Homo sapiens: one gene and its partner. The protein of the gene in region 2 interacts with the protein of the main gene of each other region in a biochemical or structural test. Each region holds a gene or a part of one and is shown on either strand. Other genes may lie near its edges.

Region 1 (7,463 bases), on a different chromosome or scaffold from region 2:
CTTTGCTGGCATTTGTTCTCTCAGAAGTCTCTCGAGTTCCAAAAATCCTGCATGTCCTGAAGTCTCCCCTTGAAGATATCAACATATCCTGCATGGTTTGTTCAATCGACACAAAACTTCTTCCCTATGATTTTCCTACTTGAAGAAGCCCTTGTTCCCTTTCTGCCACTTATGTTGTAAACTCTTGGTATGATGTTGCTTTCATCTAGTAAGTATTAACTGAGTACCTAATTTGTGTCAGGGTAAGCATTAAGAAAAGGTGAAAACGACATAGCCCCTGCCTCCAAGGAGCTGTCAGTTAGTGGTATGATGACTGTTTTAAGTGTTTTGATGAGCACCCAAGTCACTATGGGATCCCCAGGAGTGACAGACCCCCCATACTAGAAACCTCAGTGACACCTCCTCAGAGACAGTGACAACTGAGTAAGTCACATTAAAGGTGAGTCCTACAGGATAAGTAGGAGTTAGCCTTGCAAAAACGTGGGACAGGGAGAACTGACTCAATTCAGAGAGGCCCCAGTGAATGGAGACGCATGTACTGGGCTGGGGGTAGGGCCGTGCTCACTTCTCTAGACTTATAGCTTGTCACTGGTCTTTGTATGAAGATTTCCTAAGTTTTTTATGCATCTGAGCCAATGGTCCTCACATTTTTTGTCTTTAGACCATTTAGGTGAGAAAAAAGTCCTGTGGGTAGGATATATACATCCCACTTTGCCTGGGACAATCCTGGTTTATGTCTGTTGTCTTGACATTGATAACAGTGCCCCGTTTACTCTCAAACATATCCTGATTTGAACAATATATGTTCATTTTACTTATAGACCATCAACCACACTCTTCACCCACACATCACGGGCGTGCATATTTAAACAGAGCTATGAGTATAGTTTTTTCATCCCTTAAAACCTTAACTTTTGGCCGGGTACAGTGGCTCACACCTGTAATCCCAGCACTTTGGGAGGCCAAGGCGGGCAGATCACTTGAGGTCAGGAGTTCGAGACCAGCCTGGCCAACATGGTGAAACCCTGTGTCTACCAAAAATATAGAAATTAGCCGGGCGTGGTGGCACGTGCCTGTCATCCCAGCTACTTGGGAGGCTGAGACAGAAAAATCACTTGAACCTGGGAGGGTGAGGTTGCGGTGAGCCAAGATCGTGCCACTGCACTCCATCCTGGGTGACAAAGCAAGACTCCATCTCAAGAAAAAAAAAAAAAAAACTACGTTTTTACTGTGTCAGAGTATCGTAGATATCATTTAGCCTGGCCTGCCTCATTTTAAAGATGGAAAGACATGGTGAAAAACATCTCTCAAGTATTTGGTATAACCAGTCCTTAGGGAATGCCATGAGAAACCTTGCCTATTATAATATCAGTAATGGAATGCCAAAAAACACAACCTCTGTTGTCCACATTCTAAGTCTTTGAGGAGCAAAGGATGTGCAGGATTAAGAAAATAGGATATTTTGAAGTTTCTGCAATGTGAAAGACTATGAGGACTAAACGAAGTGATTAAGTGAATCAATGTATATGAAAAGTGCTTTGTGGGCAAGAAAGTACAATACAGCTATTAGTAATTGCTTTAATTTCCCATGGCAGGGGGGCGTCTGCTTTGCTCTGAAGCATCATAGCTGCTCCTGTCTCTTTAGAAGCCTGATCTTGACCACTGACCCAGCCCACTGTTGCCAAGCAGTAAACTTACAGCCAGACTCAGCCACACCAGAATGGCCCAAATCGCTGAGACTGCATAGCCCCAAAGTCAATCCACAACCCAGAGGGATTGAAGTGGCACAATTCAAGGCGTTAGGAAGCAAAGATATAAACCTGCTGACTCATTTCCTTTGGAGACTCCTTTCCTCAGACAGGCTTCATCTCCACCCATGAAGGAACTCATCGAACACTTACACTAACTGACAGGGACTGAGGTTTGGAACCCATTATCGAAAACCTCCCGGGAGATGTAGGGGATGAAAAAGATGGTAACAGAACCCACGGTGTTGTGGAAACATCCCGAGCTGCAAGTGTGAAGGCCTGATTTGATCTCAGCGGTGCTACTTACAAGCTGTGTGCCTTTGGACACCAGATCACCTCTGTGAGTTCTGCTCCTCATCTACAGAATGAGGGGGCTGGGCTGAAATATGTCTAAGAGCCCCCAGCTCTGAGGATCTGGTTACAAGTCTCTGGAATAGCCTGGCATGTTGGTTTTTAGTATGATATGCTTAAATGAAGCCATAAGAAAAAGTGTACAGCATATGAGTAAGAAACTACAAGCAGCTATTACAATTTATAAGTCCAAGAATATGCATCTGAAATGTGTAACTTGTTTAAAGTTATGCTGAAACCCAGAAAACTGAAGGGAGAATAATTTCCGCTTAGAAGAATGCAGTTGCAAGTAGATGAACAGCGATCTGATGCTTAAAAATGCCAAAAAGAAGGGCAGTCCATATGCCTAAATCTCAGCCTTACAACGTCAGCCAGGGAGAAGAGCCAGCCAGACCCACCAATACTTCTCAACTTTCCCCAGTTTGCGGGTACCACACCCTTTCTGAAACTAGCATTGCAAAATTCATTCTGAGTTCCAAAGTAGGCCTGAAAATGTCCTCAGAAGTATTTTCTCCTCCGTGAATCACGGTTGCACCCCTCTACCACCAAAACCTCCGAGCCACGTGACTTCTTCATATTCTTACCTTGTATGGTTAAGTGATTTTACTCCCTCTGCAGTGTTCCTGGTGCTCAAAGGGTTGGGAGCTGGAAATACTGCCAACATGGGGGATGAGAGGCGACAGTACTCAACCCAACAGCCCGTCTTTGAAAACAGCCCCAAAATGGACCTAAGTCCATTTTGTTCACCATCTCAAATCAGCTCAAATAACGATATTTATGAATTTCCCTGAAAAAAGGAAGTCACCAGCCCTGCTACCCCACCTTGCTTACCTGGAGTCACAGTTATCCTGGAAAATGCGTGGAAAAGGAACAGGCAAGCGAGGAGCACAAAGACCTGGATGTGGAGGCGACCGTGTCTGGGCAGAAGCAGCGGTGGCTCACCTGGGCAGCACCGCCACGCCCACTGCCAGCCCAGCTCCACGCCCCGCCCCGCCCCGCCTCGGCGGCACTCCTCTCCTACTCAAGCCTCTTGGCAGCTTGTCCACAATTGAAAGAAATGATTCAGGCTGAAGTTACTGTTGTCTGCACAGCTTCCAAAAGGCCTCCAACATGTTCGGGCAGGAAGGGGCTGTGAGTTACATGCATACGTACAGACATGCGTACGGCAATCCTCTCGGCCCACGCAGGACCGGAAGGTGAAATATTCGATGAAATAAAAGTAATGTGTGATGATAGTAACACTACAAATTTCTCAGACACGTTGGTGGCACAAAAAGTACTCTGATCTCCATTCTTTTTGTGTAAACTGCAGCAGCTCATTCTGCTAGATGCCAAGAGAGGTAGCTGCCCATTAAACAGAAAGACAATCAAAAAAGAAGGAATGGATATATGTATAAACACAGTGCCTACCTAAAAATTAGGTACTATTAGCAAAATATTTACTACCAAATTGGTAGGAGATATTGTTTAATGGGTGGCGCAGGAAGTTTCTTTTTAAAATCCTGTGATTAGGATTACTCAGGCCTGGCGCGGTGGCTCACGCCTGTAATCCCAGCATTTGGGGAGGTTGACGTGAGCGGATTGCTTGAGCCCAGGAGTTTGAGACCAACCTGGGCAACATGGTGAGACCCCATCTCTACAAAAAATGTAAAACAATAGCCTAGTGTGGTGATGCATGCCTGTGGTCCCAGTTACTTGGAAAGCTGAGACGAGAGGATCACTTGAGCCTGGGAGGTCAAAGCTGCAGTGAGCCGTGAGCTAACCACTGTACTTCAGCCTGGGTGACAGAGCAAAAGAAACAAAAAGAAAAAGGAGTACGCAGCTCTGCTCTGAAATCTCTTCGTGGAGCCTGTTCTTGTCCTCCTGTCTTCCCACAGCTTCTTCATTTGGCGGGACCTACTCCCTTCCAGCCGAATCAGTCTCAGGAAAGGACCTGAAACGGAGCTGGTTGCTTCTCTGCTGTGCTTATCTAGAATTCCCTATTGTACATTTACTACATTGTTTCATAATAATCTCTTACATTCTCCTATATGTGACTACAACAATGTTAAAGGTAAGTGCCAAACTTCATTCATTTTTATAACACCAAAGCTTGGTACAGACCTGATGTACAGTATGCAGTCAATAAGTGCTTGTTGAGTAATGAATAAGAGCAACTCGCTATATTAACTGACTAAACTAAGATTGATAACAGCTTCCCCTCCCCCATGTCCTGGGTATTTTAATGTTAACCAGAATCAAAGTCATAAACTAAGTGAACTCCAAAAACAGAATTTTAGGCATCAGTGGAGCAAGTGGAGGGAAGGTCATAGGTGAGGAGGTGTGGAAGGATGCTTCTTAAAAATTCTATTATCCAGCTGTAGGAGGGAAAATGAGAATTTGGGAGCAGAGTCATAAATTTGCAAACTAAGTCTAACCACTCATTGCTTGAGAAATCCTGAGCAAATTGCTTAATCCCTTTATCTTCAGATTCCTCATCTGTAAAATGAGATCTATATATAGTTCTCATTTGTCAATAAGATCGATAAAATGAGATATAGACAGAGATGGATGAAGAGACAATTCTTACATACTTTCTGACACATAGCATGTGCTTCCTAATGATGGCAATTAGTACCACTTTGCCCATTGGTTAGGTAGGCTCGGGGAATAGTGGACAAAAGACTGGAGCATGTTATTGACATTGAATTCACCACATTTATTGAATACCTGCTTCGTGCTTGCTACTGTGGTCTACAGATTTCAAGCGACTTGCATTTAAATGGTAGAGCCTCTCTATTCTCCTTTTTGAAGTTTTAATTCCCTCTAAAACACTCCTGTTCAGTGCTTGCTCAACCGGGGCAGAAACATTTCCAATGACAGGAATTCAACAATACCCAAGGAAGTTCTAGCAAAGTGAAATGCCTTTGGGTGATTCTAACTGGGTGAAAATTAGAGGCACCATTCGACTGGGGCTATAAGACATGTTCCCTCTCCCCAAAGGGTACAGTAGGAAGACAAGAAACAAAAGAAAGTATCTGGAGGCATGTAATAAGGGACTTAAGAGAGGTGCAAATGACAAAAGTAGTTCAGAGATGGGTGTGACCTTTTCAGTCTGGCTATGACTGGGGAAGGATCATGGAGGCAGCATCATTGGACATCAGGAGACCATTTAAGCCTGAGAACGGAGGTCCAGAGCTGGGATGATACAAGGTATATTGGACAGATATGTTAACAAAAGATTAAACAGAACATTTCCTGTCAAAAGCTTTCACTTGTTGAAGTATCTCTGGAGGTCAGACCCTGTACGTGAATGTTCTCACCCTCTCATTGAACCCAAGTAAGGCAAGGACTCACAAGTCTCAGGTGTAACATCATTGACAAAACACACTGTTGATTTAGGCAAAATTGCAGGAAAAAAAAAAGTGGTTCCCATTCAGTGGAAAGAGTATTAAAACTGTGATTCTATTTGACTGAGAAGACCCATTTCCCAGTAATATTCTTTTCCACGGCAGCCAAAATTTTAAGTTCTTTAGAATTCTACCTAAAAAGACACTAGAAAACAGAAAAGTGGGAGAGGATGGAGTTATACAAGCAGTTCACATTTTTTAAATTACAGAATTTCAAACTAGTTTCTGGAGAACATGCCTGCTGATTAATTTTAGGAAAGAGTGGCCTCAATAAAGTCTTCTGCATTCAATAGGTTTCTACTCTGCTTCCCTGTTTTAACTGGACATTTTGATTGGAGTCTGTGATTGACTGAATAAGCATTTTTTGAGTGTGTCAGACCCTGGGCAAGACCCAGAATAAGACCTAACTATGGATCTCAAGCCGACTACAGTTTAGCTTTGCATTTCTATAAGTCAGATACCTACACTAATTGTTATACTGTAAAAAAAAAAAAAAAAAAAAAAAAAAAACATACATCCTGAAGGAAATGCCTGGAAAGAACAAAGTTGTCATGTCAATTATGTTAACAAGTGGACTTAGAAGCATCAGACTTATAAGAAAAAAGGTTCTACTCATACTAATAACTCAGAGAGCAACAACATAAAAATAACAATATGGTGTTATTATCCTGTTATAATCTTCAGTCTCTTGCCTCATGAAAAGCTTTTTATGTGGGCCCATGAATAGTCAACTCCAGAGTATTTTTGATCTCCCTTCTTCTTGATGAACTTTGAACCTATAAGAAGCAGATATAAGGCCAGATTTTATAGTTTTCTATATGATATACTATACAATTCACTTATTATGTTTACTGTTGATGGCCTCCTTCAGCTGAAATCTAAGCAGATTTTTTTGGTCTGTTTTTTTCACTGATGTAGTCCAAGAACTTAGAATAGTATCTGGCACATAGTGGGTACTTAGCACATAGTGGGTAGAGAATGAATGAGTGGGAAATAACCCTACCCGACAGGAATTCAACTAAGGATGAATTCAACCCAAAATTTGAAGTCAGTTTGACATTTCCTTAAATACCAGCTACCTTTCCTCCAGTTCTCTTTGTATATGAAGACCAGTACATCTGATTCATCCCAAACACTTTACATTTGTAAAATAAATGATTCTTTTTTTTTTTTTTTTTTTTTTTTTTTTTTTTTTTTTTTTGAGACGGAGTCTCGCTCTGTCGCCCAGGCTGGAGTGCAGTGGCACGATCTCGGCTCACTGCAAGCTCCACCTCCTGGGTTCATGCCATTCTCCTGCCTCAGCCTCCCAAGTAGCTGGGACTACAGGCGCCCGCCACCATGCCCAGCTAATTTTTTTTTTATTTTATTTTTTAGTAGAGACGGGGTTTCACCTTGTTAGCCAGGATGATCTTGATCTCCTGACCTTGTGACCCACCTGCCTCAGACTCCCAAAGTGCTGGGATTACAGGCGTAAGCCACCGCACCCAACCAAATAAATGATTTATTTAAAAAAATTTAGTGACAAAGAATACACCTGTTTGTAGGAAAAAGCATTTGCTCTATAATTTCAAAAATAATCCATAATGTTTTCCCCTCTCTTTATTTGCCACAAAAACCATTTTATTGACTATATATTTAAAAGAGTAGATTTTTTGGAGGGGAGATACATAGCTCAAAGAATGAATTATTCATTCATTCATTATACAATTGTATGAAGCAATAACTTCCTCTAGTTCAACACAAGTAATCATTGGACTAAATATTTAATAACCTAGGAGACTGTTTTGTTGGTGCTTTTTCTTACCTATAGGTTGAAGCTTTGCAAATATTATACTTGATTACTCAGCATCGAGGCTGAGGGATGATTTGACACACCCAGCCACTCCCAGGAACAAATGAAAGGAGCTTTGTTCTAGCATGTGCCTCTCGCTTTCTCTCTCTCTCTCTCTCTCTGTCTCGCTCTCGCTCTCACTCA
Region 2 (7,864 bases):
GTGCGGCCTCAGTTAGCCCCCTTGCCTGGGCTTAGTGCCTGTGAGGACAGGGGACGCTAGTGGTGAGGGCTATAGGTGTCCAAGGTGCTGGTGGGGCTCCTGGGATCCCCTGCTTACCTCCTTGCCTCATTCCCAGCTGATCCTGGTTGAGGACTGGGGTGCAGGCCCAGTGTTTCCTTCTGTTCTTCATGCGGCCATCCTGAGTTTCTCTGCTCACCAGGTTTCTGTTACTCCTCTAAAGCACTCTGGTGCTCTTCCTCAGTTATTTTCATTAAAAGTTAATTGTTGGCCAGGCGCGGTGGCTCACACCTGTAATCCCAGCACTTTGGGAGGCCAAGGCGGGCAGATCATGAGGTCAAGAGATCGAGACCATCCTGGCCAACCTGGTGAAACTGTCTCTACTAAAAATACAAAAAAAAAAAAAAAAAAAAAAAAGGGGGCATGGTGGTAGGTGCCTGTAATCCCAGCTACTTGGGAGGCTGAGGCAGGAGAATTGCTTGAACCCGGGAGGCGGAGGTTGCAGTGAGTTGAGATCACGCCATTGCACTCCAGCCTGGGCAAAAAGAGCAAAACTCTGTCTCAAAAACAAAAACAAAAACAAAAACAAATATTGTTTATTCATTGTTCTGGCTGTCTTAGTGAGGGGAAGGAGGACAAGAGAACTAGGGGGGCCATGGATGGGTGGCCCGCACCTGTAATTCCAGCACTTTGAGAGACCAGGGCAGAAGGATCGCTGGAGGCCAGGAGTTCAAGACCAGCCTGGATAACATTTTGCTCTACAAAAAATTTAAAATAAAAATGGGCCGGGCGCGGTGGCTCATGCCTGTAATCCCAGCACTTTGGGAGGCCGAGGTGGGCGGATCACAAGGTCAGGAGTTCGAGACCAGCCTGGCCAACATAGTGAAACCCCGTCTCTACTAAAAATACAAAAATTAGCTGGACGTGGTGGCACACGCCTATAGTCCTAGCTACTCGGGAGGCTGAGGCAGGAGAATCACTTGAACTCGGGAGGCAGAGGCTGCAGCGAGCCGAGATCGCCCCACTGCACATTAGCCCGGGCGACAGTGAGACTTAGTCTCAAAAAAAAAAAAAATAAAATAAAATAAAAGTAAAAATAAAAACGTAGCTGGGTGTGGTGGCCCGCACCTGTGGTCCCAGCTACTTGGGAGGATGAGGTAAGAGGATTACATTGAGCCTGGGATGCTGAGGCTGCAGAGAGCCAAGATCTCACCACTGCCCTCCAGCCTGGCCAATAGAGGGAGACCCTGTCTCAAAAAATAAAATAAAATAAAATAAAGAAAAAAAGAAAAAGGAAGGAAATTGTGACACATACAGCGATATGGATGAGCCATGAAGACACTGTGCTCAGTGAAATAAGCCAGTCACAAAAAACGAACACCGTGTGATTTCACACATATGAAGTACTTAGAGCAGCCAAAAGCGTAGGGACAGAAAGCAAAACAGAAGTTGCCAGAGACTGACAGGGCGGGAGCAGAGCCTCACTTTAGTTTTGGCACCTGGCTCTGGTTGTGACGCCTGCACCGTCTCCCTGGAGGGGCTGGTCAGAGCTGGGCTCCCACTGACTGATGTGCCAAGATGAGGCCCCCACTGTACCTCTGCTCCCACCCTTCTGCACCACCCACCCAGCTCCCATCCCTCTGCACCACCCACCCAGCTCCCACCCCTCTGCACCACCCGTCCAGCATTCCTCTGACTTTCAGGGATAGCAGGGGCCAGGCACAGGGAGTGGGCAGCGGAGTCCCTCTCAGGAGGAGCCTCCTTCAGGGAGGTGGAGGTGGAAGAGGCCAAGCCCTTGGCCAGCACAGCTCTCAGAGGCAGGAGCTTGGAGGTGCCACAAAGCGGGCTGTGTTCTCGCGCTAGCCCAGCCTAAGGGCACCTTTCCATGTTTTGTTTTGTTTTGTTTTTTGTTTTTTTTTTTTTTTTAAACACGGACTCTCGCCCTCTCACCCAGGCTGGAGTGCAATGGTGCGATCTCGGCTCACCGCAACCTCTGCCTCCCAGGTTCAAATGATTCTCCTGCCTCAGCCTCCAGAGTAGCTGAGATTACAGGTGCCCACCACCATGCCCAGCTATTTTTTGTACTTTTAGTAGAGACAGGATTTCACCATGTTGGCCAGGCTGGTCTCGAACTCCTGAACTTGTGATCCATCCGCCTCGGCTCCCCAAAGTGCTGGGATTACAGGCTTGAGCCATGGCACCCGACCTGTCTTTCCATGTTTTGCTGGCAGTTCAGGGGCCTTCTTTCTAACTCCAGGCTGACAGGGTTTGGCGCCCAGAAGGAGAGTCACTTGGGCCAGGACTCCAGAAGCACCAGCTGAGGTTGAGGGGACTTGGTGGAAGGGATAGTTAGCAGCCTGGCCAGAGGGGCGCCAGGACTCACCCAAATGCACACTGGAGGGGATGTTCAGATGGCACGAGAACGGGGATCACACATGGTCGTTCACACACGTGCACTTGAAGATGCATGCACACACATACACCCAGACACACACACCCGCCCAGCCTCTCCTGCACGCAGGGGGCATGCACACACGAGGACGCTCCTCACCTGCATGCCTGACCTGGGGAAGAAGCCCACCTGGTGGGAGGCACCCTCCTCCCACCCTCCATCTGCCATGGCCCAAGTGCTGGCCCCGAGCCCGTGCCCAGGGAGACTCAACACAGGCCCTTTGTCCCTTGGGATCAGGGCTCCCAAGAGAGGGATTTACTGAGCATTTATTTCCTGCCCCGGGCACGCCCCAGTCCTCATTCTGCCAGGAGAAGGGAACAATGAGGCCTTCTCCTGCCCGCAGAGGTGGCTCCGGGCCGGCTGGCCCTTATGTGTCAGGAGTCGGGTTAGGACCACAAGTCCCTGTCCTCCCTGCCCTCCAGGTGTGGGGCTTGGGAAGACCCCTCTGTGACTCTGCAGCCTGAGGCACAGCAGACAAGAGAGTCTCCATCTGCAGCCCATGCAGCAGCCAGGGCCTCCCTGCAGCCCCCGGGCCAGGCTTGGCCTCTGCGGGAAGCCCCCAGCCTCACTGGAGGCAAGAACCTGAGTCCCTGGCTCAGATCTCCGGGTAGGACTGGCCTGACTGAGACCCTGGGCAAAACCAGGAGCTGACACCTCCTAGGGGCCTCAGCGGATCCCTGGGACTCAGGAACCAGAGGGAACGTCCTGCTGGCTGGGAGAGGGGCAGGATCAGAAGCCCAGGGACCTTTGCCCCAACCCAGCAGGCCAAGGCCAGGCTGTGCATGTGACTTGTCCTTGAGCAGCTGCTGCTGGGGAAGGAGGCCCTGAGGGAAGGCACCGCAGCCTTGTGCTCCTGAAACCCGAAGCTCCCACACACCCGCTGCGCCCTCATTGAGTTCCCGTTGGTACCATGCTCTGTGCTAAGCATTTTATCTGTACTTTCCCCAAAGAAACTTAATACTTTTATTGGAAAACCAGAACGCCTAACCACACATTTTGCCTAATCTTTCATGTAATTAACCTTCCACTAGTGCAAGTGTTGAAAGTAGAATACGCTATTCCCAAGTTTCAAGTTGAGGGAGGCGGGATTCCCAGGTTCTGGTTGTACATTCCCATTTTCACTGATCTGTTCAGTGGTCAATGGATTCTTGGGTTGCTTTCATGTCAGCTACTGTGAATAATCCTGCTATGAACATGGGTATACAAATATCTCTTGAAGGCTGGGTGGGGTGGCTCACACCTTCACCCTGGCACTTTGGGAGGCCGCAGAGGGCAGATCACCTGAGGTCAGAAGTTCAAGACCAGCCTGGCCAACATGGCGAAACCCCATCTCTACTAAAAATACAAAAATTAGCTAAGCATGGTGGCAGGTGCCTCTAATCCCAGCTACTCTGGAGGCTGAGACAGGAGAATCACTTGAACCCAGGAGGCAGATGTTGCAGTGAGCCAAGATCGCACCACTGCACTCCAGCCTGAGCGATGGAGCAAGACTCCATCTCAAAAACAAACAAAACTAAATCCCCCCAAAAAACCAAAAACAAATATCTCTTGAAGACCTTCCTTTCAGTTCTTTTGGGTGTATGCTCAGAAGTGGAATTGCAGCTGGGCGCGGTGGCTCATGCCTGTAATCCCAGCACTTTGAGAGGCCGAGGTGGGCGGATTACCTGAGGTCAGGAGTTGGAGACCAGCCTGGTTAACATGGCGAAACCCCGTCTGTACTAAAAATACAAAAATGAGCCAGGTGTGCTGGCGCGCGCCTGTAACCCCAGCTACTTGGGAGGCTGAGGCAGGAGAATCGCTTGAACCCAGGAGGTGGAGGTTGCAGTGAGCTGGGATCACGCCAATGCACTCCAGCCTGGGCGACAAGAGCGAAACTCCATCTCAAAAAAAAAAAAAATTGTTCCAGAGAAGTGAAGAGAGCCCAGCGGGAGCCCGCAGTGGGGACAGCCTGGGCAGAGACTTGGGGAGATCCCCATTCTGGGTGGAACGGGCCGAGGACCACTGTTTTCCCAAGAAGGTCCCATGAAGGAGCAGCCATGCCTCTAGGCCCCACCCGGCCTTCAGGGGGTCCCCAGGCTTTAAGGGGACTCCTGGCTCAGGGCCAGGCCCTTGGTGCTGGAGGAGGTTGTAGGTGGAGGACGGGGTCACCAAGAGGGCAGCCGGGACCCCTGGGCTGCAGACAAGAAAGGGACTGTGGGGTCCACCGGGTCTGGGCCACATCAAGAAGTGTGGTTGAAGACCCGCCCCTAGGGGCTGAAAGCCAGGGCGCTGCCAGGCATGAGAGGCCCCAAACAGCCCTTGGGCCCAGGAGGGTGAAGCTGGGAGTAGAGGGCAGAGCTCCCACCCCGCCCCGCCCCCAGGGGGCGCCCCGGGCCCGGCGCGAGAGGAGGCAGAGGGGGCGTCAGGCCGCGGGAGAGGAGGCCATGGGCGCGCGCGGGGCGCTGCTGCTGGCGCTGCTGCTGGCTCGGGCTGGACTCAGGAAGCCGGGTGAGCTCGGGGCGCTGCTGGCGGGATGGGGAGGCGGGGGAGCGGTGGGGAGGACGGGAGGTGGAGGCCGCGGGGAGTCACTTCTTGTCTCCCGCAGAGTCGCAGGAGGCGGCGCCGTTATCAGGTAGGGCGCCCAGGACGCGCGATTCCTGCCAGGGCCGTTGGGCCGAGGTGGACGGGGGGCGGTGAGGGGGTAGAGGGGGGCCTTTACTGCTCTCTCGCCCCCGCCCCCGGGATCGAGAACTCTGTTGGCGTGGAAAGTAACTAACGGACGCTGGAGGGGGATGGGCGGGCCCTGCAGAGCACGTGGGAGGATCTCCAGTGTCACCTACTTCCTGCTGCACACACGCGAGGGGACCCTGGGTGGGCAAAAACGTGCTTTCCCGGACGGGGTTGAAGGGGAGAAAGGGAGAGGTCGGGCTTGGGGGGCTGCCTCCCGCGGCTCAGCAGTTCCTCTGACCATCCGAGGACCATGCGGCCGACGGGTCATCACGTCGCGCATCGTGGGTGGAGAGGACGCCGAACTCGGGCGTTGGCCGTGGCAGGGGAGCCTGCGCCTGTGGGATTCCCACGTATGCGGAGTGAGCCTGCTCAGCCACCGCTGGGCACTCACGGCGGCGCACTGCTTTGAAACGTGAGTGGGGGTGCGAACGGAGGGGTGCGGGGACGGGCAGGAACAGGGCTGGAGGGAGTGCCACCGAACTTTACCTCTGGTCTGATGCCAGACTTGGGCGTGAAAGTTGTGCGTGGATGCGGCCTGGTGTTCTCCTGAGCCCCAGGCTGTGCTGCAGCCGGTTACACCCACTCCAGTTCCCTTTGGGTCTCCTGGAGGGAACCCTGTTCAGGTTATTCCAGAATGTTCTTCCAGAACATTTCCACACACTTTTGGGTATTCTCTCCCTTTTTCTTTCAACCCAAAGTTCACCACTGACCATCCCACCCTCATCCCCCCTCCTGGTGGACGGTGCGGTACAGTGTGGGGCACTGAGCCAAGGCCAGCACCCCCGGGCCGCTGTGTGGACTCCATCCTGCCAATCCCACATTGGCGTGGTGCATCTCCCCATTCCTCCTTGGGCTGCATGGGGGTGCCCCTGGAGGCCTTGGCTCAATGCAAGGCTCCTTGGGACAGCTCTGGGAGGTGACAAGACCCCACCCTTCTGCTGCAGGAGCAGGTCCTAGGACTTTGGTTGTGGTCTGTCTGGGCTCCTTCATTTCTGCAGGGGACCCTGGGTGTTAGCAAGTAGCAGCAACACCACAGTTTCCCCTCCTGCACTGGACCCCAGTTGTGCTCAGGTAGCCAGCCCTCCATCCAGGGCCCCTGACTGCTCTCTTCTCTTCTGCCAGCTATAGTGACCTTAGTGATCCCTCCGGGTGGATGGTCCAGTTTGGCCAGCTGACTTCCATGCCATCCTTCTGGAGCCTGCAGGCCTACTACACCCGTTACTTCGTATCGAATATCTATCTGAGCCCTCGCTACCTGGGGAATTCACCCTATGACATTGCCTTGGTGAAGCTGTCTGCACCTGTCACCTACACTAAACACATCCAGCCCATCTGTCTCCAGGCCTCCACATTTGAGTTTGAGAACCGGACAGACTGCTGGGTGACTGGCTGGGGGTACATCAAAGAGGATGAGGGTGAGGCTGGGGACAGGCGGGTCAGGGAGGAACTGTCTTTGTTCACCTGTTCCCCTGCATAGGCACAATAGCCCCCTGCTTGGTCTGGGGGTGCAGGCTATGCCCCTCTTGCTTGCAGTCTCTCCTCACCTGCCAGGGCAGGGACCAAACACCCAGTTCTCTCCCTTCCAGGGGCTGTGGGGGCCAGAAGGAGAGTGTGAGAGGGAGGCCAGTTTGGCGCAGGCCTGTGGGTGGTGCGGTGGTGGAGGGGTTCTGGAGGGCTTGGCGACATAAACCTCATACTTGGATTTATTCCTGCATCTTTCCACCTCCCCCAGTGCTCACCAATGCCCCAGGCATCAGGCTCCTGGGCTGCCTCTCCATGCCTCCCACACCCACCCTAGCTCTGGCCGATTCTCCTGCAGCACTGAGCCCATTCCTCTCCCCAGAAACTTCCAAGCCATGCTCAACCGCAGCTCCCACGGAAACCCCTCTGGGGGTTCCTCTGGTGGGCCTGCCCTGGCACCTGCGTGTCCCCCAACACACATGCCCTGAAAGAAGTGGGCCCAGCATCCGGAGGAGCCCCGGCAGCCCCAGACTGGGCGTGTTCCCTGTATCAGGAATCCCTTCCCTCTGCTCCCCTGTCTGGCCCGTCCCTGCATCATCCCACAACAGTAGTAACAATAACAAACGTGGTTCCTTGAGCACACGCTGTGTGCCTGGCACTGTTCTAGACATGGGGGCCCAGCAGTGAGCCAGGCGCGGCCTCTCCTCCTGCTGGAGCTCACCTAGGAATGAAGTTGGTAACGTTCTTATACCCATCTTACAGATGAGAAAACTGAGAGGGTTATGGAAATTGCCAAGAACTAGTAAATGGAGAAGTCAGGGCCCCTTGCCTTAGAGAGGGTAAGGGATGTCCCCAAGTCACACCCCGGCAGTTGGGAGTGGGGAACTCAGCACTGGAGCCGCCTCCCTCTGGAGGAGGGATCCTTTGCCTTCCCTGAGAAGGACCCTTGCTGCAAACACGAGTGGATATGAGCCAGGGGCACGGCCAGGCTGCCTCTGCCACCCTCTCTCCCCAGCCCAGGGTAGACAGGTCACACCAACCCCAGGCTGTGCCTCAATTCACAGTGCCGGGGAGGCAGGGGACAGGCACTTCTGGAGCCCCCTGCCTGGTGTGCACCTTTGCTGTGCCCTGCGCGGGCTGGGAGGCCTTGGGCAAAGGTGTTCATCTTACAGTGCCTCAGTTTCCTCCCCTGTGAAATAGGGGAATGATGGTGCCACATCAGAG

Evidence for each region. Proteins that work in one complex are often made in the same cells at the same time.
Region 1: the proteins of PRSS21 (region 2) and SERPINB5 form a complex in vitro, tested with the Homo sapiens proteins (one study listed by IntAct).

What each region holds. Positions count from the first base shown.
Region 1 is NC_000018.10:63,472,513-63,479,975, reverse strand, and holds the start of SERPINB5 (serpin B5), read right to left. Parts: upstream 3,019-7,463; 5' UTR 2,931-3,018; intron 1-2,930. UniProt on the Homo sapiens protein: Tumor suppressor. It blocks the growth, invasion, and metastatic properties of mammary tumors.
Region 2 is NC_000016.10:2,812,376-2,820,239, forward strand, and holds the start of PRSS21 (testisin isoform 1 preproprotein), read left to right. Parts: upstream 1-4,861; 5' UTR 4,862-4,893; coding exon 4,894-4,957; intron 4,958-5,054; coding exon 5,055-5,081; intron 5,082-5,425; coding exon 5,426-5,591; intron 5,592-6,301; coding exon 6,302-6,594; intron 6,595-7,864. UniProt on the Homo sapiens protein: Could regulate proteolytic events associated with testicular germ cell maturation.